Homo sapiens: one gene and its partners. The protein of the gene in region 3 interacts with the protein of the main gene of each other region in a pairwise test. Each region holds a gene or a part of one and is shown on either strand. Other genes may lie near its edges.

Evidence for each region.
Region 1: the proteins of NECAB2 (region 3) and C19orf25 interact in binary tests that used the Homo sapiens proteins (3 or more experiments, as listed by UniProt).
Region 2: the proteins of NECAB2 (region 3) and DGCR6L interact in binary tests that used the Homo sapiens proteins (3 or more experiments, as listed by UniProt).
Region 4: the proteins of NECAB2 (region 3) and KANSL1 interact in binary tests that used the Homo sapiens proteins (3 or more experiments, as listed by UniProt).
Region 5: the proteins of NECAB2 (region 3) and PRKAA2 interact in binary tests that used the Homo sapiens proteins (3 or more experiments, as listed by UniProt).
Region 6: the proteins of NECAB2 (region 3) and FXR2 interact in a two-hybrid assay, tested with the Homo sapiens proteins (2 studies listed by BioGRID and IntAct).
Region 7: the proteins of NECAB2 (region 3) and NEK6 interact in binary tests that used the Homo sapiens proteins (3 or more experiments, as listed by UniProt).

The regions. Positions count from the first base shown.
Region 1 is NC_000019.10:1,472,701-1,476,215, reverse strand, and holds the end of C19orf25 (UPF0449 protein C19orf25), read left to right. Parts: intron 1-957; coding exon 958-1,184; 3' UTR 1,185-3,015; downstream 3,016-3,515.
Region 2 is NC_000022.11:20,317,261-20,321,242, reverse strand, and holds the start of DGCR6L (protein DGCR6L), read left to right. Parts: upstream 1-1,182; 5' UTR 1,183-1,254; coding exon 1,255-1,364; intron 1,365-1,443; coding exon 1,444-1,604; intron 1,605-3,982. UniProt on the Homo sapiens protein: May play a role in neural crest cell migration into the third and fourth pharyngeal pouches.
Region 3 is NC_000016.10:83,981,744-83,985,243, forward strand, and holds part of NECAB2 (N-terminal EF-hand calcium-binding protein 2), read left to right. Parts: intron 1-3,500. UniProt on the Homo sapiens protein: May act as a signaling scaffold protein that senses intracellular calcium.
Region 4 is NC_000017.11:46,183,430-46,186,929, reverse strand, and holds part of KANSL1 (KAT8 regulatory NSL complex subunit 1), read left to right. Parts: intron 1-3,500. UniProt on the Homo sapiens protein: Non-catalytic component of the NSL histone acetyltransferase complex, a multiprotein complex that mediates histone H4 acetylation at 'Lys-5'- and 'Lys-8' (H4K5ac and H4K8ac) at transcription start sites and promotes transcription initiation.
Region 5 is NC_000001.11:56,693,814-56,697,313, forward strand, and holds part of PRKAA2 (5'-AMP-activated protein kinase catalytic subunit alpha-2), read left to right. Parts: coding exon 1-39; intron 40-2,121; coding exon 2,122-2,346; intron 2,347-3,500. UniProt on the Homo sapiens protein: Catalytic subunit of AMP-activated protein kinase (AMPK), an energy sensor protein kinase that plays a key role in regulating cellular energy metabolism.
Region 6 is NC_000017.11:7,604,898-7,608,397, reverse strand, and holds part of FXR2 (RNA-binding protein FXR2), read left to right. Parts: intron 1-2,248; coding exon 2,249-2,301; intron 2,302-2,659; coding exon 2,660-2,753; intron 2,754-3,500. UniProt on the Homo sapiens protein: mRNA-binding protein that acts as a regulator of mRNAs translation and/or stability, and which is required for adult hippocampal neurogenesis. Specifically binds to AU-rich elements (AREs) in the 3'-UTR of target mRNAs.
Region 7 is NC_000009.12:124,313,449-124,316,948, forward strand, and holds part of NEK6 (serine/threonine-protein kinase Nek6), read left to right. Parts: intron 1-474; coding exon 475-537; intron 538-3,500. UniProt on the Homo sapiens protein: Protein kinase which plays an important role in mitotic cell cycle progression. Required for chromosome segregation at metaphase-anaphase transition, robust mitotic spindle formation and cytokinesis.

The DNA of each region.
Region 1 (3,515 bases), on a different chromosome or scaffold from region 3:
GGGCAGGCCAGAGCCGAGGGGCCCCTGACGCTTCTCTGAGTGACCCTGAAGTCGGTGCTGCTTCAGCCCTGCTGCACTGGGCTTGCATACGTGGGGGAGCAGGGAGCCATACGTAGTTTCTGCTGAATGTGGGAGTCACCAGGACGTCAATGCCCACCTCTCACCTTCGCCACCCCTGCCTCCCTAAGTGTGTGCTCCAGGAGGTTGCACGGCCCCTGGAGAGGTTTTCGGTGGCGGGCTTGTTGCGTCTCTGGCTTCCAGAGACAGCAGGAATGAGAGCCAGGCCAGCTCAGTGGAGTCCATCCCGGTGGGTGCCACGGCTTTTGCAGGAATGGAAGCCCCGCCCCCAGGAGGGCCACTGCTGGCGAGGCTTGAGCTCTTTCTGTGACCCGATCCCCCTGGTCACACGCTTTGCTAAGGCGGGTAGCCTAGAGCTGGAAGCCCCTCCTGCCACCCAGCCACTGTGCCTCTCCCAGCTGATGGACGAGGAAGCCTCCATTACTTGATTTTTGTTTTTATTTATTTTTGAGACAGGGTCTCATTCTGTCACCCAGGCTGGAGTACCGTGGCACGATCATAGCTTATTGCAGCCTCGGCCTCCCAGTCTCAAGCGATCCTCCTGCCTCTGCCTCCAGAGAAGTAGGGACCACAGATGCGTGCTACCACGCCCAGCTAATTTTTGTATTTGTATTTTTTGGTAGAGATGGGGGTGTCACTATGTTGTCCAGGCTGGTCTCTAACTCTTGGGCTCAAGTGTTCCTCCCGCCTCGGCCTCCCAAAGTGCTGGATTACAGGCGTGAGCCACCACACCTGGCTGCATCCGTCATGTTAAGAAGACCCCGGCTGGCAAGCTCACTCGGGGACTGCAGGGAACCCTGCCCTTTGGGGGCAGTAGTGAGGGGTGCCCAGGAGGATGGGGTGGTCAGCAGGCAGTGATGCTGCTGTGTCCTGTCTCAGACCCCCCAGTTCCCTTCAGGATGATGGAGGATGCGGAGGCCCCGGGAGAGCAGCTCTACCAGCAAAGCCGGGCCTACGTGGCTGCCAACCAGCGGCTGCAGCAGGCGGGCAACGTGCTGAGGCAGAGGTGTGAGCTCCTGCAGCGAGCCGGCGAGGACCTGGAGCGGGAGGTGGCCCAGATGAAGCAGGCAGCATTACCGGCAGCCGAGGCTGCCTCCTCAGGCTGACCTCTCGGGGCCTGCAGGCTTGGGCAGCGCACAAGGTGGCCTGCACCCAGGCTTTCCCTGGGGGTCCGTCGGCCCCAGACTGGCATTCACGGGGTCCCAGCCCACGTGGGTGTTGACACAGGCGCCCCTCCTGATGCTGGGGCTGCGGTTCATCCGTCGTCTCATTCATGCCGAGTTGGTGGGACCCACCCAGCTGGCTCCGTCCTGCGTGACCTGAGGGCCCCACTGGGGTTCTGGAAGAGGATAGGGACATTATTGCTGTACTGTGATTCTGTCGTCAGCTCACAGTGGCCGTGCTCTGCAGTGGGGCCCCTGGGAGCAGGTGCCACCTCCTTCCTCTCCCGGGGCAGGCACTCGCCTGTCCACTTCTGAGTCCAGGTGTTGGGATCGAGGTGTTAACTGTGATTCCATCCAGCGAGTGCCCACCCAATGTCAGAGCAGCCCGAGGGCCAGCCTGAGCCCCTGACCCCACTTCCTTCTGGGCCCCGGGCTCCTCCCACAAGCCACGTTGATCTTCACAACGACCCTGGGCCGCTGGGGTCACCCAAGAGAAGCAGCCCTGAGACCCAGCCAGGCTGGGCCTAGCTCCACGGCACGGGTGTCTCCCAGCCACTGCCCTTGCTGGAGGACCGCTGTGAGTCACTGGCCAGGAGCCCAGGGTGTCCTGAGTCTCATAGCCACCCTGCCAGCTGCAGCAGGTCCTGGGCCTGCTTCCCTGCGGGTTCTGGCCCTGGGGGAGGGGGCGTTAGTGCGGCGGAGGGTCTTGCCAAAGGCTTTTCATCCTAAATAGCAACTTGAGTGGAAACCTGGGCAAGGCGGCCCAGAGGCTGGGCCCTGCACATAAAGCTTTCGTGTGTGTCTGGCCGTCTGAATGGTGCCTCTGTGAGCGGCTCCGTCCCGGGGCCCCGGAAGCTGGGGAGGGATGGGTACCGGCGACCCCGGGAACCCTGCTCAGTCCTGCCGGGCACTGCATGCAGGGACCGTCCGCCTGACCCAGAGACCTGGGGCTGCCTCACCCTCTCTCCAGACCCACAGCCAGCTTTGTTTCTTGAATGTGGAAGATGTTTCTTATTCCCTGAAGAAAGGGGGCCTGCCACACACAGCCTGGGAGGCGCCTCATCCAGAAACTGGGACTTGGCTAGCCCGGCCTGGGCCCTAGGGACTTCTCACTGGTCATGCTTCTGAAGCTGCTCACCTGGCCGAGGGAGGTCCCGGCAGTGTCCCAGGGTGGAAGGTGGGGAGGGGGCCGGCTCCTGCCATCCCTTCCCACCCTGCACTTCTGTGCTGCTTGCAGTCATAGCTTTCCTTGTCCCCCCAGCTGGGCCAGGGCTGTGCTCCCTGAAGTGGCTTTGACGTGGGGCCGTCCCAGCTCCCGCAGCCCCTGTCCACCATTGACTCTCCCCGGTAGTGGCTGCTGTGGCTGCCCCATCCCAGCTGTTGCACCAGCCACAGCTCCTAGTGGCTCATGGGTGCCTCCTGCCCCACACTGGGGCCTGCCATAATAACTGGCCCAGGTACCAATGCCCAGGTTGGACCCCCTGTCTGGGGTGCTGTGCACCCCCTGGAGCCTGCCCTCCCTTGGGACCAGGGGGAGACTCCTGGCCTCAGCCAGTGCCTCCCCGGCCCATCTGGGTGGGGTGCCCACAAACCCTGTGCCCCCAGTTTCTGCTTTCTGGCTCTGCTTCCAGGGATCTAACCTGGGGGGTCTCAGCAATTCTGTGGCAGCACATAGACAGCGATGAACCTACCCGCCCACAGCCCATTTTGAGGAAGAGGTGATGGCGGCAGGCAATGCAAGAGCTCAGTTTATTAAATGTGTGCGAGTCGGACAGCTGACGGTGTCGTCCTTACGCCGGACAGATGGCTTTACATTTAGGGAAGGACAGGCTTTCACTATTTACCACTATTTACACGTCCGTTTAACACTGCAGAGACCCGGTACAGAAACGTGGGGTGGCGGCTAGGGGAATCAGACAGACCAGGCGCGCGCCATCAGGGCTGGACCGGGGCAACAGATGGGGCCGGGTGAGGTAATGCTGTCGGAGCTCGGGAGGACCATGCCGGTGGGCACGGCGCCCCGAGTTCAGCACCCACGTGTGGTCATGTTGGGGGCCAGTGGCGGTCACTGTCCATCAGCCTCAGGACACCTCCACCCTCCCTGCGTCCTCAGACCCTCAGCTCCTTAGGACTGGCCCTGGAGCATTGGGGGGCAGACGAGGACCCCTTGTCACCCTGGTGCAGAGAGGCCAGGTGGCCAGGCAGGGGCCGCGGTGGGAGGGAGGCCTTGCAGTGGGCGTACCTTGAGTTGATTGTCCAGAGACCGCGGACTGC
Region 2 (3,982 bases), on a different chromosome or scaffold from region 3:
TCTGGGTTGTGGACCGCCCTCCACGGCAGTGGCCTGAGCGCTTGTCATTATTCACTTTATTCATGCCTGGTTTCTGTCTGGAAGGGACCACAAGGACATGGCGTGCAGGGGAGCCAATCCTGCCAGGGACTGAGGAAACAGATCCTGGAGAAAACCAGACACTTTGCTGGCACTTCAGGGGGACCCCAGTTGGTTGGCTCAACGCCCCCTCTTCCCCATAGCCAATTACTAACCAATGTTCTCTCTGGAAACCAGTCATAATTCCTAACCTGGTCAAAGCAGGGTCATCTCACACAGCCCAGCCACCCAGCAGGCAGCTAAAGAGTGCCTGATGAAATGCAAGTCTGATCGTGTCTGCGTCCCCAAGCCCTTCCGTGCCCCCTGCTGCTCTATGGACAAGCCCCCAGCAGCCTCTGTAATGCACAGCACCCGCCCTTGTCTCCTGTGCTGGCTTCCGCAGCCTGGCCACACTGGTCCTCTCGCCCACCCACCTGACCTGACTCTGGCAGGGCCTTTGCAGGAGCCATTCCTCCACCCGAGCCCCTCCTATTAAAGCCTGTTCCTAGACGGTTCAGCCCCAGCCACCAGAAGCCCCCCAGCCCCGGCCCAGCAGCTGGCCTGTGGAGCGGGGAGAGCGCAGTCTGGGCTCACGGGCTGGGGGCCACGGAGGCCCAGATGGGGACTCTGGCTCCGACTGTCCTGACCCAGAGGCTCTAGGGCGGTCCTGTCTGTCTCACCCCGGGGGCGGGGAGGACGCAGACAGACCCCAGCGCCACTGCTCGGCCGCGGATGGTGCCTTAGACCCAGGTCCTGTGGGCTCTGGCCCGAGACCCCTGCCTCTGGGGAGGCCGGTGACCGGGACAGTCCACCTCGCAGGCGCGCCGGCGCGGAGCCCGGACCTCGGCCCGCAATGACTCAGCAAGGGCCGGTGGGATTCTCCGTGGTCCTGCGATATCCAGACGGCGGAGTCTCGCCTTTAATGTCGCGCGGGGAGCAGGCAGGTGCGAGCCTGGGCTGAGCAAAACCCTCCTTGGAGTCTCCGCAGAGGAGCGGGGCGCGCCTCCTGAATAAGCAGGCGGCGGGGCGCGGGGCAGGGCGGGGCAGGCGGCCAGGCCCTCTCGGGACTGTCGTAAAAGGGGGCGGAGCGCGCCGCGCGTGGGACAATCGTAAAAGGGGCGGGACGCGCCGCGCTCGGGATGTCGTGAAGCTGGGGGAGCTCGTCGCCGCCGCCGGCGGCTAGCGGGCGTCCGCGCCATGGAGCGCTACGCGGCCGCCTTGGAGGAGGTGGCGGACGGTGCCCGGCAGCAGGAGCGACACTACCAGTTGCTGTCGGCGCTACAGAGCCTGGTGAAGGAGTTGCCCAGGTACGCAGGCGGGGCGGGCGGAGGCCTGCGGAGGCGGCTTCGTTTCCCGCCGGGGCTCACCGCGCCCCCCTACCCGCAGCTCTTTCCAGCAGCGCCTGTCCTACACCACGCTCAGCGACCTGGCCCTGGCGCTTCTCGACGGCACCGTGTTCGAAATCGTGCAGGGGCTACTGGAGATCCAGCACCTCACCGAAAAGAGCCTGTACAACCAGCGCCTGCGCCTACAGAACGAGCACCGAGGTGCGCGGGGGCAGCGGGATGAGGTGCCGCCTCCTCCGGGTCGGCGCCTCCGGGCAGCTCTTGGTATCTGTGCAGATCAGCTCCTTCCTTGGAAGTGTTCGGAAGAGGTCTCTAAGATTGACAAAATCAACGGGCGCAGAGACTGAGACAGCGCCTTTTTGGTGATCAGTGGGTCCAACCAGTTTTGTTTTCAGTTGCGCAGCACCCACCTTCTTAGCAGAAACTCCCTGTTCGGGCTTCCCTGTGCCCCACGCGCTTCCAGACAGGATGGCCCTAGGCCTCGGTGCCTGATTGGCCTGCAGGCAGACTCTGGTGGTGGCGCTGACTGCAGCAGCATTGCCCCTCAGTAGTTGGAAGTCTGTTGACAGTTGTGCAGCAAGCGTCTTTCAGGGTCAGTTCCCTCTCAGGCCTCGCAGGGCCTCATTCCAGTTGCACATCAAATTCCTAAGCACTGTCTCCTGTGGCGCCCTCCCAAACCCGAAGAGCTTCCCACTTGAGCCAGGCCTGCTTGGTGGGCTTGGGAGCCCTTTCCTGCAAATTATATAGGGCAGGTCCCCCTGCACCATCAGTTTCCACCTTTGTTATTTTTCCCAAACTTCTTATTTTAGAAGTTAAAACATTTAGAAAAGCTGAAAAGATAGTATAGTGCATACGCTTGTGCTCTTCACTAAAGTTCAATAGTTAACGTTTTGCTCTAGTTCTTGACATCCCAAAATATATACATGTGACAGCATAGCATTCACCAAGAGTCTTCAGCATTCCTGGAGACCAGGATTTTCAACCCAGCCATGCTGACATTTGTGGCTGGGTAAGTCTTTTTGGTGAGATGCTGTCTTGCGCATTGCAGGATGGCAGGGGTACCCTCCCTAGTCCTGAAAACCAAGAATGCCTCCAGACAACCTGGGTGGTGGGGTCAACCTTGGCCTTGGATTGGGAGCAAGTGCTCTAGAACAAAACTGGTCTCCTACACAGCTGCAGAAGGTAGCCCCCTGAGAAATTAACTGTTCCGGGTGTCTCCTGACTTTCAGTGCACGGCCACATCATGGTACCTAACTTGTGGCAAATTGTTGCTTTATAAGTAAGGATCCAGTCCAAGTTCATGTACTACAATTGGTTACTTTGGTCTCTTTGCTTCTGAAACAGTCCCCAACATTTATTGTGGCATTGACTTTTTTGTAGAGTCCAGGGCATTCTAATTTTATAGAATGCCCTGCTCTTGATCTATCAGACGAAATGCTTCCTCTTGCATTTAACCTGCTTCTCCACTCTCTGGGTTTCCTGTACACTGGACTGCTGGTAGAAGCCTGATTAGAAGCAGGTTTAATGTGGCAAAAATTTCTCCTAGCAGTGCAAGGCCCCCTTCCCCAGAAGGCAGGCAGTGTCCATCTGCTCCAGGATTGGTGTGTTTTTATCAAGAATGGATGTTGGATTTTGGCAGTTCCCTTTTCGGCAGCTCTTGAGATGATCACGTGGTGAATCATTTTCTATTACTACAGTGAATTACAGTCACTTGAATTCCATCCTACTGGGTCGTGCTGTAGTATCCTTTTTATGTATGCTGGATTTGATTTGCTAAAATCTTAAGAATTTTTTGGTCTATGTTCATGATAAACTGTGGTCTATAGTTTTCATGTAATATCTGGTTTGGGTATCAGGGTTTTTGCCAGCCTTATAGGATGAGTTTCGAAGTGTTCTCTCCTCTTCAGTTTTCCAGAAGAGTTTGTGTAGAATTGGCATTACTTCTTCCCCTAAATGTCTGGGCGATTGTCTTTTTAAAATTTTTTATTGAGCTGTAAGATGTATGTAGTTTACTAATCCCAAGCGCATGGCTCATTATTCCTTAATGCCCAGACTGTGCCATGTGTGGCCAGTTGGGGGCGCTCCAGGCACCTTTAGATGCCGCCCCATCATTCTGTGAGCACTTTCTTGCTTTCTGGTTCAGGTATGTGTTCAGGCTCATCTTTTCTTGTTTTCTCCGTGTCTCAGTCCTGGAATCGGCCATTTTTCCACAGAGCTATAGTTCCTTATAGCAGGATGGGGAGTTTTAGTAACTGCCTGGGCCCAATGCTGTTTGTGCTTCAGAAGGTTTGGGCCAGGCCCTGGTTCCACCAGCAGCAGGCATGCCTGCATTGACTTTCTGCTTCTCCTGCTGATTTGGCAGGGGCGACTGGCTGCTCCTGCCTCCTTTGTGTTCCCTGGTCATGTCTAAGGCCAGGCCCCTTCTGCCCAGGCAGCCAGCGTGGCTCTCTTCTTGCCTTTTGGTTGTCTATCTAGTGGAATCTGGTAGTGGACCTGGCACTTGTAGCAATGTTTGATCAGTAGAGTGAAGGAGATGACATTTCCCTGCTTCCCTGTGTTATGGAGCTGTCTTGAGGGGG
Region 3 (3,500 bases):
CCAGGAGGCAACTGGAGAGTCAGTCATCCAGGAGCAGAGAGCAGCCATAGGGCACACTGGTCCAGGCCCACGGTGAGGGAACTGGGAGCATGCAAGGGTGAGGGACCCACAGGTGCTCGAGGCAGCAGCCACCAGCACCCTGAGCTTTGGGAGTCCAGAAAAGCCCAGCCTTGTCTGCCGGTTGAGGCCGGGGAACTTAGCTGATAAAGCCAGCCAGACCTGGCTGAGGGATCTGAGCTGGTTATTTCCCTTTCTGAGCCTCAGTTTTTCCATCTGTGAAATGGAGACATCCACCTTATGAATTACGAAGTCCTTCAGAGATTGAGCCAAGTAAGGCCTCTGAGCTATTGAGCATGCAGGACCAAGCTCGGAGCAAAGGCACCTGCTGGTTTGTATCAATACGCTCCTACTGTACGCTCAGCCAGATATTAAAACCCATTCTGTGCAATTTTCCCATGCTTCTCAGTTAGTGACCGCCATGTATTAGACAGTCTCTGTTTTGCCATATATCTAACAATAGTTGGGCCTCATTCTGGGCCTCCACGATTCCACATTTCCATTTCTGTCCCAGTATCATGCTGTTTTGAGTCTTGCTGTTTTAGAGTATATTTTAATACCATGTAAGACCTGCTCCCTTCAAGTATTAATCTTTGTAGAATATCGTTTGATATCCCCAAGTATCAAGGTATAGGCGGTGGATTAGAAGGTAGCATGGGAAGATCCCAGGCTTCCGAGTCACCCAGACAAGGGTGGCAATGCCAGCTCTGCTCCAAACAGGCTGTGTGAGGTCACCATGTGCTCACAGATGACCCTGGGAAATGGAAACCACCTCCTTGAGCCTCGGTTTTCTCACCTTAGAAGGGGCCCACGTCCTAGCCATGCTGTGAGGCATTCGTAACATCCATGGTTGCGTCTTGGTCTTCAGTCAGACTTTTCAGGAACATAAGAGAGTTCTCCATCAGTGTCTACTGATACAAGTTAGACCGGTTTTAGAGATCTTGCTCTTGGAAGTCATGTGCGTATGATGTCAGGGGTGGTCTTTGGTGGTTTTTTTGTGGCAGTCGTGGTGATGATAGGTTGTTGCATCCGTGATTGGCATTTCCTTTTTTTTTGTTTTCTTTTTCTTTTTCTTTTTCTTTTTTTTTGAGACAGAGTCTCACTCTTGTCCAGGCTGGAGTGCAGTGATACAATGTCGCCTCACTGCAACCTCTGCCTCCTGGGTTTGAGTGATTCTCCTGCCTCAGCCTCCCGAGTAGCTGGGACTACAGGCGCCCACCACCACTCCTGGGTAATTTTTGTAGTTTTAGTAGAGACGGGGTTTCACCATGTTGGCCAGGCTGGTCTCAAAGTCCTGACTTGAGGTGATCCGCCCACCTCGGCCTCCCAAAGTGCTGGGATTACAGGTGTGATGTGATTGGCATTTCTTTTGCTTGCGTATTTCCTAAGTGGTTTTTGTTTGTAGAAATGCAGCTTGTCGGTTGTTGTTTTGAATGCTTTTCTTGTATGTGCTGTTTGCTTTCGTCAAGCCGCAGCATCAGTTATTAAGAGTGCCGTTGTCTCTGCATTCTAACACGTGCCCCTCTTGCTTCCCTGTCTATCCTGTGGCATTTCTCTCATGTTCTAAAACGTCGTGGTGGGGCACGGCCAGGCATGCTTGTTTGGCTCCTGATTTTCGAGTGCATCTCTAGTACTTCTCTGCTGATTATCATATTAATACCAGCTCTTATTTTAGAATCCTTGTCAGCATGTTGGAGAAATATTTTTGCATTCCCTTTTTTCCATTTTGTCTTAGGAGGGTGGTGGTGAATTTTTTCAAATGCCTTTTGGTATTTTTAAATGATCATATGATTTTTTTCCCCTAAGCTATTGATGGGGTGGATGCTATTTTTAGATTGTCTCAAATTGAACAATCCTTCGCTCCCTGTGATAAACCCTAATTGGTATATTATTCTTTTATCACATTACTGAGTCCTTGTCATGAGCCAAGAATTTTATCTCTGTCTCCATTGGGAGTGGAGATCGGATGATAGCTTGGGAATGATTTTGTGAAGTGGTTTTGAATGTGTTCTGTGTATGAATCAGCTTCTCTAACATAGCATCATTTTTCTACGTAAAAATAGAATTTATCCATAACGCTTGGGTCTCAGTGTTAAACAGGGGAGGGGATGATTTTCATAGTTATTTTAAGGTCATCTCTACTTTTAGTCAACTTTTTCACTTGTCCATTGTAAAATACATATATATATATGGTGGTTTTTTTTTTTTTTTTTTTGACGGAGTCTCGCTCTGTCATCCAGGCTGGAGTGCAGTGGCACAGTCCCAGCTCACTGCCAGCTCCGCCTCCCGGGTTCACGCCATTCTCCTGCTTCAGCCTCCCGAGTAGCTGGGACTACAGGCGCCCGCTACTACGCCTGGCTAATTTTTTGTATTTTTAGTAGAGACGGGGTTTCATCGTGTTAGCCAGGATGGTCTCCATCTCCTGACCTCGTGATCTGTCCTCCTCGGCCTCCCAAAGTGCTGGGATTACAGGCGTGAGCCACCGCGCCCGGCGGAATATTTTTAAACAAAACTGCCCTGGGCATAGTCGTTTTTACAATCAGTCATGCATGGAATGTTTTATGATTATTTTTAAAAATCTAAAACATTGTTTGACACACGCAGGCACTTAATGCACATTAAGTTCAATAAAAGATCTGCTGCCGCTCACGGTGGCTCACGCCTGTAATTCCAGCACTTTGGGAGGCCGAGGCGGGAGGATCGCTTGAGCCCAGAAGTTCAAGACCACCCTGGGCAACATAGTGGGACCCCGTTTCTACCAAAAACAAAACAAAACAAAATTAGCCGAGCATGGTGGGATGTGTCTGTAGTTCCCACCTTCTTGGGAGGCTGAGGTGAGAGGATCTCTGGAGCCTGGGAAGTCGAGGCTGCAGTGAGGCACAGCATGCCGCTGCAACCCAACCTGGGTGACAAGAGAAACCCTGTCTCTCAAAAATAAAAAAATAAAATGTGCTGCTGTAGCTCACATCTTAAGTTTCTCCCATTTTTCTACATTTTAAAACCTTGTATTTGACAGTTTTGCCTGTTTTAATTAGCTGTTTCAAATAACAAGCTCCTGGCACATTTATTTAAATTTCATGACATGTTTTCTTATTTATTTATAGCTCCTATCATTATTATTTCCTCCCTCTTATAACTTTAGGTTTGTTGTTTTTGCTGTTCTTTTTCATATGTGAAATGGAATGGTTTTTTTGATAATGTTGACATTTTTAAAATTTACTTTTGATGGGGGCTGGGTGCAGTGGCTCACGCCTGTTATCCCAGTACTTTGGGAGGCCGGGGCGGGCAGATCACCTGAGGTCAGGAGTTTGAGACCAGCGTGGCCAACATGGTGAAACCCTGTCTGTACTAAAAATACAAAAATTAGCCGAGCGTGGTGGCAGGCGCCTGTAATCCCAGCTACTTGGGAGGCTGAGGCAGGAGAATCACTTGAACCCGGGAGG
Region 4 (3,500 bases), on a different chromosome or scaffold from region 3:
AACCCTGTCTCTACTAAAAAAAAAAACAGCAAAAATTAGCTGGACATGGTGGCGCATGCCTGTAGTCCCAGCTACTCAAGAGGCTGAGGCAGGAGAATTGCTTGAACCTGGAGGCGGAGGTTGTAGTGAGCCGAGATCGCACCACTGCACTCCAGCCTGGGCGACAGAGAGAGACTTCGTCTCAAAAAAAAGAAAAAAGAAATACCAGTCTGATAAGTTGAACTGTCAGGAAAGTTTCATTAAACTCTCCATATGTTACCATGGAGAACTGAAGCTCTTTGAAGACCTTAAGCATGTCTCCAAAAAATTGGACTGTATTTTTTTGCACTTAGTGATTTACTCCTTACCCCTTGCCTCCCAAGAGAATGAAAAATGGATATTAGTATTGACTTAACATTTTATTGGCATTGGAAAAATGTACTTTTAAAAGTCATTAATTGACTTTTCTCTAAAGGTATAAGGTAGGTTTCAGTGGGAACTCAGGAATTTGGCCATGGACCCTCCCAGAATAACCTGTTTCCTTTAGAATTCTTTTTTTTTTTTTTTGAGACACAGTCTCGCTCTGTGCCCCAGGCTGGAGGTGCAGTGGCGGGATCTCAGCTCACTGCAAGCTCTGCCTCCTGGGTTCATGCCATTCTCCTGCCTCAGCCTCCCGAGTAGCTGGAACTACAGGTGCCCGCCATCATGCTCAGCTAATTTTTTTTTTTTTTTGCATTTTAGTAGAGACGGGGTTTCACTGTGTTAGCCAGGATGGTCTCGATCTCCTGACCTTGTGATCCACCCGTCTCGGCCTCCCAAAGTGCTGGTATTACAGGCATGAGCCACCGCGCCCGGCCTCCTTTAGAATTCTTAAAATCTTCCAGAAGTCGCTGATTTTAGGATTGTTCAGGAGCACTTACACCAACCATTAGGGCTTGTTGGAAAGAGATATGATAAAAAGTATGATTTTTTTTTCCTCTGTCTTTTGTCAGCTAAAGAGTGGTAGGAAATTTGAATTCAGTGCTAGCATAGAAGTAGGATTAACACCATTAATAGTTTGATATATAGACATCCTTCAGAAAAAAAAGTTTTCTTGAGATGGTATCTTGCTATGTTGTCTAGGCTGGTCTTGAATTCCTGGGCTCAAGCAGTCCTCCCACCTTGACTTCTAGAGTAGCTGGTATTACAGGCATGAGCCATGGGGCCTAGCCTATCCGTGTGTGTGTGTGTGTGTGTGTGTGTGTGTGTGTGTGTGTGTATATATGTGTGTGTATATATATGTGTATATATATATGTTTAATGGGATCATACTTGTTATATGGCTTGATCTTTTTAATTAGGGTTTTTTTTTTGTATTCCAGTTCTTCAGTGAAAGCATTGTGTATACATCTTTGAGTACCTATGAGAATATTTCTGTTGAATAGATTTCTAGAAGTGCAGTTGCTGGGTAAAAGTTTGAGCAATTACATTTGTGATTTTGATGGCTATTACCTTTATAATGCTGTGTAACCACATTTAATAATAGCTTAAAAAGTGTAGTTAAAAAGTTTCCTAGTCTGGGTACAGGTGCTTGGTCAAGTAAATAACTGGAACTTGTAGTGGGTGAAGCCTATCCTAGGTTCAGTTGATGCCTCTTCTTGTTAGGTGGTTGATCACTTCAGACATCCCCATTAACGTCCTAATGGATCTTCATCTGATGGGTTTAGCATAGAATGCTCAGGTTGCTTAACGTGTGTTGGTCTGCTGTCTGCCAGGCATTGTGCTGCTTGTAGGGGACAGAGATAAAACAAGCTATAACCCTCCTTTTTTAAGAAGTACATAGTTGGCCAGGCGTGGCGGCTCATGCCTGTAATCTCAGCACTTTGGGAGGCCGAGGCTGGCGAATCACGAGGTCAGGCCAGGCCAACATGGTGGAACCCTGTCTCTACTAAAAAAGACAAAAAATTAGCTAGATGTGGTGGCGGGTGCCTGTAATCCCAGCTACTCAGGAGGCTGAGGCAGGAGAAACGCTTGAACTCAGGAGGTGGAGGTTGCAGTGAGCCAATATTGTGCCGCTGCACTCCAGCCCGGGTGACAATGAGAGGCTCTGTTTCAAAAAAAAAAAAAAAAAAAAGTACATACTCTGGGGAAGAAAGAGACAAGACAAAATTGTGAGTTTATATTGTACCATGAGCAATAGCCAGGGTGTCATGGGGGTGCAGGTAAGAGCCTAGAGGGAGGGACCCCACCTCAACCTGGGAGTAATGGGGAATACTTGAAAGAGCATGTAACCTTGAGCTGAACCGTGAAAGAGTAGCATGAGTAAAGGTGCAGGGGCATAGAAGAGCCAGGAAACATATGTTTCAGGTGGCTGCAGTGAGGACAGGCTGGAGATGAGGTCTAATGTAAAAAGGGGACAGATAATGGTGTGTGGGGAATTTGGACTCATCCTTACTCTAGAGTCAGTGAAAGATTTTAAATGGTTAGATTTAGGTTTACCCCCTCCTTTCCTTTTTTCTTCCCTTTCTAATAATCATTTTGGTAGTGGACGCTAGATTAGAGGCTTGCTGAGACAGGAAGAAGGAAGAATAGTTGGGAGATTATTACTGCCTGAATTACTATAGTACATAATGAGGTTCTGCACTAGGGCATTGGCACCAAGGATGGAATGAATGTGCCTGTCATTCTGTGTGTTGCCAACCCTCACCCTCTGTGCACCACCTCACCTTTCAAAATTCAGTCAGTATGTCATCTTTTCTAGAAGCCTTCCTTGACCCCTTCAGGTGAAATACAGTACTTTATCAAGCTAGGCTACCTTCACACCTAATTTATATTTTACTATCTTGTATCTGGCATTTAGTAGATGTTTAAATTAAATATTTATGGTAAAAAGTAAGTTGGTGATTTGAGGTCATGATTAACTCAAATAGACAATGTTGAGGAGCAGGAGGAAGTTTTGGATTTGGTGTTGGGGCAGGGAATGGGTTTTGAATATGGGATGCTTGAAGTAGTTGTATAGGCAATGCTGAATTCTACTCATTTCTTTCTTTTTGTTTTTTTGGAGACAGTCTCATTCTGTCGCCTACGCTGGAGTGCAGTGGTGCCATCTCAGCTCACTGCAGCCGCTGCCTCCCAGATTCAGGTGATTCTTGTACCTCAGCCTTCTGAATAGCTGGGATTACAGGCAAAGACGGGGTTTCGCTGTGTTGGCCAGGCTGGTCTCAAACTCCTGACCTCAAGTGATCTTCCTGCCTTGGCCTCCCAAAGTGCTGGAATTACAGGCGTGAGCCACCTCTCCCGGCCCTACTCCTTCCCTTCCTTCCCTCCCTCCTTCCTTCTTTCCCTCCTTTTCTTCTCTCACCTCCTCTCCCCTCTCCCCTGTCTCCTCTCTCCTCTCTCCTCTCTCCTCCCCTCTCCTCTTTTCCTTCTTTTGAGACAGAATCTTGCTCTGTAACCCAGGCTGGAGTGCAGTGGCGTGATAACAGCTCACTGCGACCTCCACCCGCCAGGCTCAAGTGACCCTCCCACTATGCCCAGCTAAT
Region 5 (3,500 bases), on a different chromosome or scaffold from region 3:
ATCTCCAAATTATGCAGCACCTGAAGTCATCTCAGGCAGGTAATAATCAGTGAAGCATAAGCTTTTTGTAATCTTGTGTTCATTTTGATAACATTTAATTACAATATATTCTCTATGGAAGGTAAGATTTTAACATGGTAGAAATGGATTATTCATTTATTTTTCCACTGTTAAAGGGATAATGGTTATATCAAAAAATGTTAAACATTTCATTTAGATGTCATTATAAATATACTTACGAAGTTTTCCCCATTAGAAAAATAACTGAAGTAGATCCTGATTTAACATATCTTTCATTTTACAAAAGTGCAGATAAGAGAGTAAGAATTTGCTAAATTTAAGCTAGTGTCATTTATTTATTAGATATAGTTCTTTAATAATACCTTGCATATTTTCCAAAGTATATAGAGCATTGTTTTATATTTTGTGTTTGGAAAAATGAGATTTTGGGGGAAAATATTGTTTCATGAAATTACACAAGTAGAGATTGTGTAGTTACTCATAACTTATTCATTGGTACATTATAAAAATGTTTATACAGATTGCAGTGGTAAACTCAAGTCTTTCTACAGTGATCAACGTGTGATTTTAAAAGTTAACAGAATCCTATAAGAGAAAATATGGTTAAAGTATTATTGCAAATAGCAGATAAAGAATTATCTTAGTCCATTTGGGCTGCTATAAGAAAGATACAATAAAGGTGATAGCTTATAAACAACAGAAATGTATTTCTCACAGTTCTGAAGTCTGGGAAGTCCAAGATCAAGATTTGGTATCTGGTGAGGGTCTGCTTCCTAATAGACTACTGTATGCTCACTGTAACTTCACATGGTGAAAGGGACAAGGGATCTCTCTGGGGTCGCTCTTATAAGGGCACTAATCCCATTCATGAGAACTCTGCACTAGTGACCTAATCACCCCCCTTAAGTCCCCACCTCCTAATACTATCTCCTTGGGGGTTAGGATTTCAACACATGAATTTTGAGAGGACATAAGCATTCAGTCCATTGCAAGGAGTTTGAACAATACAGCAAATGATGTAAACAATCACCATTTTTTATATAAACAGATTATATTCTTTTCATTAGAATAGTAAAGATTTACTTTGTTACCTCAGACCCAGGTTTGAGTATGGTAATATGCTATCATGGGAATTGTAATGCTGTAGAAACGTAAGAGAAAAAAGGAATAATACTATAAGCATAGGTTATCTGGATCAAAGATGATTTTAGTCATATGAGTTAGGAAGTGATGAGAATAGAAATAGTAAGTACTCAGGATAATGTGATACAGGATAAATACTGTCTACACAGTACTAATTAAGTACTTTAATGTTTTAAATATCTCTCTCTCTATATATATGATATATTATATATATATATATATATATTTTTTGTTTTGAGATAGAGTCTCGCTCTGTCACCTAGGCTAGAGTGCAGTGGCACAATCTCAGCTCACTGTACCACCTCCTGGGCTCAGATGATCCTCCCACCTCAGCCTTCTGAGTAGCTGGGACTAAGATGTGCACCACCATCCCTGGCTATTTTTTGTATTTTTAGTAGAAACAGCGTTTCACCATGTTGCCCAGGCTGGCCTCAAACTCGTAGCCTCAAGCAATCCGCCCGCCTCAGCCTCCCAAAGTACTAGGATTACAGGTGTGAGCTACCGTGACCAGCCTTAATATTCTTTAAAGGTGTGCCAGGGGTAGAAATTCTATTATATGTATACATTATATATATGTTTTCTTTCTTGTAATAGTTCTTTGGGAAAAAGATTTAACCTATACACCATAGTATTTTTTCAAGTTTGTGGTCATCTACTTTGTTTCCCTCAAAAATCAACCACAGAAAGTATTATATGTTTTAATTCGTATGTTTCAGTTAAATGAATTTGTGACAAATAAAAATACCCTATTCACTTGGCAGGCTTGAATAGTAGTTGGCTAGCCCCATTACTCTCTTTGGGGAACAAACACTGAATATTGGGGAGCAGCCATGGACTTCATTAAAGACCTTGGAAATGAATATGTACTGAATGTAGACTACCTATATATAGAAGTAGGGTACATAGAGAAAAAGTGATTCTTGCATTTCAGGTTTGTGTTGTCATCTTTTTTCTTAGATTGTATGCAGGTCCTGAAGTTGATATCTGGAGCTGTGGTGTTATCTTGTATGCTCTTCTTTGTGGCACCCTCCCATTTGATGATGAGCATGTACCTACGTTATTTAAGAAGATCCGAGGGGGTGTCTTTTATATCCCAGAATATCTCAATCGTTCTGTCGCCACTCTCCTGATGCATATGCTGCAGGTTGACCCACTGAAACGAGCAACTATCAAAGACATAAGGTGATTTTTCTTTTTGTTTCTGTTCTGCATATTTTCTCATAGGAATAATAATGTTAATTAAATGATTCTCCCAAAGTCTCATTTCCTGCCCTCACCACCTCACCCCAGTACTCATGCTTCAGCCACATTGAACTTGTCCTTGTTTCTCAAACCTAACATAGATTTTATGCCTTCATGTCTTTGTTTATATTATTCACTTTGCCTTGATGTCTTTTCTTGTTTCTTTTTTGACCTGATAGACTTCCATTCATCCATTAAAGTTCATGCCACCCCTTTTGTGATTTCCACACGTGCTTCCATTTCTGTTTTATCAACATTTTGTTCATGCTTTTATTATTTAATCCTCATCCTGTATCTAGTTATTTCTCAGTGTGTCTTTTTTCTCTCTTAAATTATGATATCAGGGTAGAGAGTGTGTCTTATTCATCTTTGACTACACAATGCTAAAAGGCCTGGAAAGATGGTATGCTTAGAAAGTGTCTGAAGAAATTTCAAATGGAGAAATAGGGTGAGATTTTGTATTTTACATATGGTTAAAGACATAAAGCATAAAAAGTTTTGCTAAGTTTTTGAATTCAATAGCTGCTAGTCAGCTTACTGTGAAGGCTTTTTTGTCACTTGAGAAAGTTTGGAAAGTGCCATTGCTGATGCGCCTATGAATATGACCTTTGTATATCCCACACCTGTGTATAGTAGCAAGATGATTCACTGCATCCTGCCTATGACTTATCAAGGCATGTTTCTTAGAGGTTTTTTCTTCTTACCTAAGATTTCATCCGTGTTTGTTTACAAACATGTTCTTTTGACATCTTTCCAGAACTCTTTCCCCTTTTCATCATTAGCCAGCAAAGAATTTTTTTTTTTTTTTAAGGCAGGGTCTCACTCTGTCGCCCAGGCTGGAGTGCAGTGGTGTGATCACAGCTCACTGTAGGTAGCCTCAACCTCCCAAGCTGAGGTGTTCCTCCCACCCCAGGCTCCTGAGTAGCTGGGACTATAGGCACAAGCCACCACACCCAGCTAATTTTTTTTAATTTTTTTATTTTTAGTAGAAATGGAGTTTTGCCATGTTGCCCAGGCTGGTCTTGAACTTCTGGGCTCAAGCAATCCACCCACCTTGCCCTCCCAAAGTGCTGGGATTACAAGTGTGAGTCGTT
Region 6 (3,500 bases), on a different chromosome or scaffold from region 3:
CTAGTCTCGAACTCATGGCCTCAGCTGATCTGCCAGCCTCGGCCTCCCAGTGTTGGGATTACAGGCGTGTGCTACCGCCCCTGGCCAGAAAGGATAGTCTTCAACAGACAGTGCTGGAACAAGATATCTTTAGGTAAAAAATGGGCTGGGCACAGTGGTCACACCTGTAATTCCAACATTCTTGGAGGCTAAGGCGGGTGCATTGCTTGAGTCCAGGAGTTCAAGACCAGCCTGGGCAACATAGCGAAACCCTGTCTCTATTAAAAAAAAATTTTAATTTAAAAATATATTAAAAATAAAAAAAAGTGGCCTGGTGCGATGGTTCATACCTGTAATCCCAGCACTTTGGGAGGCTGAGGCGGGTGGATCACCAGAGGTCGGGAGTTTGAGACCAGTCTGACGAACATGGAGAAACCCTGTCTCTCTTAAAAATACAGAATTAGCCAGGGTCGTGGCCCATGCCTGTAATCCCAGCTACTTGGGAGGCTGAGGCAGAATTGCTTGAACCTGGGAGGCGGAGGTTGCGGTGAGCCAAGGTTGCACCATTGCACTCCAGCGTGGGCAACAAGAGCGAAACTCTGTCTCAAAAAAATAAATAAGAATTTAAAAATTTAAAAAACATTGATCAATACCTCACCTTATATATAAAATTTAATTCAAAATGGATCATAGGCTGGGCACAGTGGCTCACATCTTTAATTCCAGCTTTGGGAGGCTGAGGCAGATGGATCACCTGAGGTCAGGAGTTCGAGACCAACCTGGCCAAGATGGTGAAACCCCGTCTCTACTAAAAATATAAAAAATTAGCCTGGTGTGGTGGCGGTTGCCTGTAATCTCAGCTACTCGTGAGGCTGAGGCAGGAGAATTGCTTGAACCCGGGGGGTGGAGGTTGCAGTGGGCCAAGATTGCGCCATTACACTCCAGCCTGGGTGACAGAGTGAGACTCTGTCTAAAAATAAAGGATTATAGATGTAAATGTAAAACAAAAAACTAAAAGTTTAAGAAGAAGACATAAGAGAAAACCTTTGTGGCCTTGGATTAGGCAAAGATTTCTTTTTCTTTTTCTTTTTTTTTTTTTTGAGATGGAGTTTTGCTCTTGTTGCCCAGGCTGGAGTGCAATGGCATGATCTTGGCTCACTGCAACCTCTGACTCTCAGGTTCAAGTGATTCTCTTTCCTCAGCCTCCCAAATAGCTGGGATTACAGACATGCACCACCACACCTGGCTAATTTTTGTATTTTTAGTAGAGACGGGGTTTCACCATGTTGGCAGGCTGGTCTCGAACTCCTGACCTCAGGTGATCTGCCTGCCTCGTCCTCCCAAAGTGCTGGGATTATAGGCGTGAGCCACTGTGCCTGGCCTGGGCAAAGATTTCTTAGATATGAAACCAAAAGCACAGTTGATAAAATAATAAATTCATAAGCTAGACCTTTTTCAAAATTAGAAATCCCTAATTGTATGTGAAAAATAGGGAGAAGGTAGAAAAATTGGGAGCATAGGGGTGAATGCATGGCTTTGGCCTCCTTAGTGAGGACACAGACCACAGGAGGTGGATCAGCTGTTCAGTCATCCCTCTTGCTCTTGTCAAAATATCAAGATTGGAGTCTTCCATAAATTTTATTATCCTTTATAAATTATCAGTGTCATTCTAGATTCAATTCTAGTATTAAAAAACCGATGTTTTTAAATTAAGTCTTAATTTTTCCTTCTGTAAATTGTGTTCATCACAATTTTGAACTTGTCTAGTGTTCCGATTATTGTCTTAGGACCCATGCATCAGGGCAGCGAGTCTGCTCAGATCTCTTGCTGTATTGCGGAGGTAGGCCCTTCTCTCTCGACAGATCCTCATGTCCTCTAGGTGTTCCAGGACAGCCTCACACTGTCTCATGGGATATTCTTAGCCTTGCTGAATGTTGTTGGTATTTTAATTGAACTCTGGCAGGCTGCTTAGCACAACAGGAGGCAGACAGATAGGGAGGCCCCTGTGGGAGCCTGAGTAGATCATTGGTTTCCAGGCTGTTCTGATGCAGGTGGTACATACACCTCTCCATGACAATATCATTTCCTTTCTCTGTTTGACTGCCCATATTCTTTCCCCAGTGCAGCCTTTCAGGCTGTCTCATTACACCACTTGTGTCCCTATCTAAAACTCAAGTTTAAGGTTTTGTGGTGTCTTATTCCCTTGATGGCTAAGGTGGAAGTAAAAGGTCATTTTATTTTTTTTGCTTTTTTCTAAAATCCATTCTAGGGCTTTGTGAAGGATGTCCATGAAGACTCTGTCACCATCTTCTTTGAAAACAAGTAAGACCTTGGGAATAGAGAATCCAGCATACTAGGTCCTAGAAGGAGAGTGGAGAAGAGGGGGCAGCTGAGTCCTATGAGGCATGTAATAGGTTGGGAGAGCTGAGGGTTTGGGTGGGAACTCATATGGATCCCAGGAGAGGAAAGGGCTGAGAATTTGGTGAGGGTGGGGGCATTTGACCCAGTATTTAGAGTCTAGAAAGAGATGGAAGACACTACTATGGAGCAGGGCCTGGGGTTTAGCCTCTAATTATCCAGATAGGTGGAACTCGCCCAGCTGAGGCAATAACCCTTTTGTAAAGAAATGGGCAACCATATCAGTCAGAGTAGCTTTTTCATATTATTGTTTCTATTATAGCTGGCAGAGTGAGAGACAAATTCCTTTTGGGGATGTCCGGCTACCACCTCCAGCTGACTATAATAAGGAGATCACAGAAGGGGATGAAGTGGAGGTAAGGGCTGTGGAGTACACCTTTCTAAATGTCACTTTTCCCCAGGATTCTAGGCTTTTCTCTGGTTGGTTCATGTTCCTTCCTCCCCAACTAAGCCATATCCAGCCATGTAGCCTATGGAAATGTAAAATGCAACAGTTCCCCTTTTATCACTGTTGTGATCAGCCAAACTCTCAGGAACATCCCCAGTTTCAGGCGATTTGCCTTCCATTTATGGTAACAACATCTAAAATCCAGTGCCCTCTGATTTTTTTGTTGTTGTTGTTGTTGTTGTTTTGAGATGGAGTCTTGCTCTGTTGCCCAGGCTGGAGTGCAGTGGCGCGATCTCAGCTAACTGCAACCTCCGCCTCTTGGGTTCAAGCAATTCTTCCACCTCAGCCTCCCAAGTAGCTGGGATTACAAGCACCTGCCATCATGCTCGGGTAATTTTTGCATTTTTGTAAAGACATGGTTTCACCATGTTGGCCAGGCTAGTCTTGAATTTCTGACTTCAGGTGATCCACCCGCCTCAGCTTCCCAAAGTGCTGGGATTACAGGCATGAGCCACCATGCCCTGCCGTCCTCTGATTTTAATTAGTTCCTTCCTCTGGTTTCTTGTATCCTTGGTTTAAGATACATCCCAGGCTGGATGCAGTGGCTCACACCTGAAATCCCAGCACTTTGAGAGGTCGAGTGGGGCAGATCACCTGAGGTCAGGAGTTCAAGACCAGCCTGGCCAACATGATGAAACCCCATCTCTACTAAAAA
Region 7 (3,500 bases), on a different chromosome or scaffold from region 3:
CCTCTGCCTCCCGGGTTCAAGCGATTCTCCTGCCTAGGTCTCTTGAGTAGCTGGGACTACAGGCGTGCACCACCACACCCAGCTAATTTTTATATTTTTAGTAGAGACGGGGTTTCACCATGTTGGCCAGGCTGGTCTCGAACTCCTGACCTCAAGTGATCCACCCACCTCAGCCTCGCTGGGATTACAGGTGTGAGCCACTGTGCCTGGCCCGCCCTCTCCATCTTCTGGGGAGGGGCTCACCTGGGCTCTCTGTCTTGGTTCTTTAGTGCCACGATGGGTTTTGTGGTGGGACAGTGCTGGGGGGACCCACAGTGAGCAAGCCCTACAGGGGCTGGGAGTGCAGGGGGGGGTCACAGAGTCCCTTGGTGAGGAGGTGGGAGAGCCGGGACTGGAAAGCAGACCCCGTGGCCTCCTTTGGGTCACTGGACACAGATTGTAACCACTCTATTTCTCTTTTTCCTCCCGCCCAAGATCTTTGAGATGATGGACGCCAAGGCGAGGCAGGACTGTGTCAAGGAGATCGGCCTCTTGAAGGTGAGCACCCTGGGCCGAGCGGGAGCTTTGCCTCCTCGGGGAGGTTCTGGGGCCGCGGCTGGGCCACATCATGTCCATCACAGCCCTTGGGTGCCAGGAATCCGCAGCCCCTGCTAAGTTAACAGACGATAGCTTTCTAGGGGCAGCGGCTAGTGAGTTTTCTCCTGGCCAGGCAGGAGCGGCCCGCCTCATCGCTCTGCCCAGCCCTTGGGGTCGCTGCCTACAGCCTTTCCTCCTTGCTGCACGCCCCTCCTGCTTGTACATGGCAGTACCCGGCATAGAAGTCCTTCCCCACAGGGCAGCCCTGACCCTGCCTCGCAGTGGCCTATGGACCAGGCTTGGCTAGGGGAGGAGTTCATTGTGGGGACCACATCCAGACTGCAGCCTGTCTGGCTCTGCCTCTGTCTCTATGTCTGTCTCCCTGTTTTTCTCTTTCTCATCCTCTTTCCATCTCTCCTCTCAGCCTTTTTCTTTGGTTTTGTTGGTAGTGGTGGTGGTGGTGGTGGTGGTGGGTTTTTTTTTTATTTTAGAGGCAAACTCTGTTGCCTGGACTGTAGTGCAGTGGCATGATCATAGCTCACTGCAGCCTCAAACTCCTGGGCTCAAGCAATCCTCCCGCCTCAGTCTCCCGAGTAGCTGGGACCACAGGCGCATGCCACCACACCTGATTTTTATTTTTTATTTCTTTTGTTTTTTTTTGAGACAGAGTTTTGCTCTTGTTGCCCAGGCTGGAGTGCAGTGGCACAATCTCTGCTCACTGCAATCCCCACCTTCTCGGTTCAAGCAGTTCTCCTGTCTCAGTCTCCTGGGATTACAGGCACCCACCACCACACCCAGCTAATTTTCATATTTTTAGTAGAGACAGCGTTTCACCATGTTGACCAGCCTGGTCTCAACCTCCTGACCTCAGGTGATCCATCCACCTCAGCCTCCCAAAGTGCTGGGATTACAGGCGGGAGCCACCGCACCCGGCCCCCCATGAAACATACTGGATTTGCTCGGCAGTTTCCAGCAAAGTGGGACTGCTGGTGGCAGGGCTGCCCGCCGAAGCCACAGCTGCAGAATTTCAGATTAGCAGTTTTTTCTGCCACACGCTGCCCTGTGTTCTCAGGCCTTGGCCCTGCTCTTGGGGACTTCCAGGCTGGTGGGGAAGCAGGTAGGAAGCAGATGGTGACCTTCCAGGGTGATGCAGATTGACTGGTGGGCCAGGAGCCCCAGGGAAACCCGCTTCCTGGGCAGGCCTCACAGAGGGCAGGGCACCATCCCAGAATCTGGAAGGCCGAAGTGAGCCTTCTTCCAGGCACCGCAGCACCGTGGATTATGGGAGGTTGGGGAGACAGAAGGCTGGACATGGCAGCAGAGCCAGATACACACTCAGAACAAAAGGGGAGCCCCTGAAGTGGCTGCAAGTCGGGGGGCCATGGCTGGGTGTGAGTTGTGAGTGCCTGCTCTGGTGGCCCCCGGCCACAGTGGGTGAGGGAGTCAAGGCTGGAGGCAGGAGGTGTCCTTACCACTAACTATTATAGGTCAAAAAATATCCCTCGAAAACATTGTTTAAATGTTTAAGTAATGGTCAGCTTGCTGCCACTTACCCAGCCCTGAGGAATGTTTGTCCTGATCACCCATTGCCCCCTCCCCACCTCATGTGCCCTTCTCCCCGAGTGAAGGAACCCACAGGTGAGCATGCTGAGCACAGCCTGGTCTGGTCCCTGGTCACACAGATGTGCCACCGCAGCCCCTGCCTTGCAGGAGCCTGAGCCTGGCGTAAACCCACATGGCTGCAGAGGGGATTTGGTCCCTTCTCCAGGGCTGCCATGCAGCCAAGGGCACCAAGCCGGGGTTTCAGAGGACACACCCCTCGCTCACTAGCTGTGTGGCTGCAGGCCAGCCATGGGCCTCTCAGGACCTCAGTTTCCTCATCTGTAAAGGGGGCATGATGACAACAGGGACGCTGGAGGAGTCAGTGAGGAAGCATGTCTGACGAGCTCAGGGCAGCGCTGGTGTGTGGTACGCTCGCCGCCCAAGGCAGCCCAGTTGTCATGGTTGCCACCTCTGCCCGCCAATGCCAGCCGCCTTCCCGAACACGGGTCCCACTCCACAGGTAGCCCATGGGAAGTCAACAGGATGTGCCAGGGCACGAGGTGCTTCCTACAAAACAAAAGGAAACGTGGTTTTCGGAGGGGTGACTGTTGACATATCACATCATTCATGCAAAGAACCCAAACCCAAAACCTCTCAAGTGCGGGGGCTGGTGGGGTCGGCAGCTGCCAAGCGTGGGACAAGAAGGTGGGTCCTGTTGGAACGCAGGCGTGTGTTCATTCATTCTGTGCAATTTCTGATCACCACTGAATGCTGGACACCAGGGTGCAGCCCAGTGGAGAAGACAGATCATAGACACTCTGTGTTACATCCGGGAGGGCCTGGAGCTTGGGAGCAGAGCCCCTGATGGCAGAGATTCAAAGGACAGGGACCCTTACTCTCAGCTCTCCCTCCCTTCCCTCTGGCCACCACCACAGCCAGACAAAGCCCAACCACATTGCGTCTTTGCAGCACCTTCCCTGTCCCTGACCCAAGTGTGTCCCCTTCCAGACCCACCTGGGCCCACCAAGAGGCCACAGGCTGTGAAGTGGACTCCATGTGGACCAGGTTCTAGACTCAGCTCGGCCCCTGCTTGCTGTGGACCCGTGGCTGATCCCTTCCCCTCTCTGGACCTTGGCGATTTAGCCCAATGGACGTCTGGAGCCCCTTTCTGCCTGTGCCTGTGTAGACTGCCTGGGCATTTAAGGGAGCCCTTCCTTAACCCCCTGCCCTCAGACGTGCAGGGAAATGGGGGAGGAGTCTCCCTCCTCCCCTCCCCAGGAACCAGCGCCTCCTTGATGGGGCTTTACTTCCTACCCAACCCCTCTCATTTCTCCCTTGTTGGAGAAACTGTGTCATGCCTGGACTGCTGATGACCTGGGCAG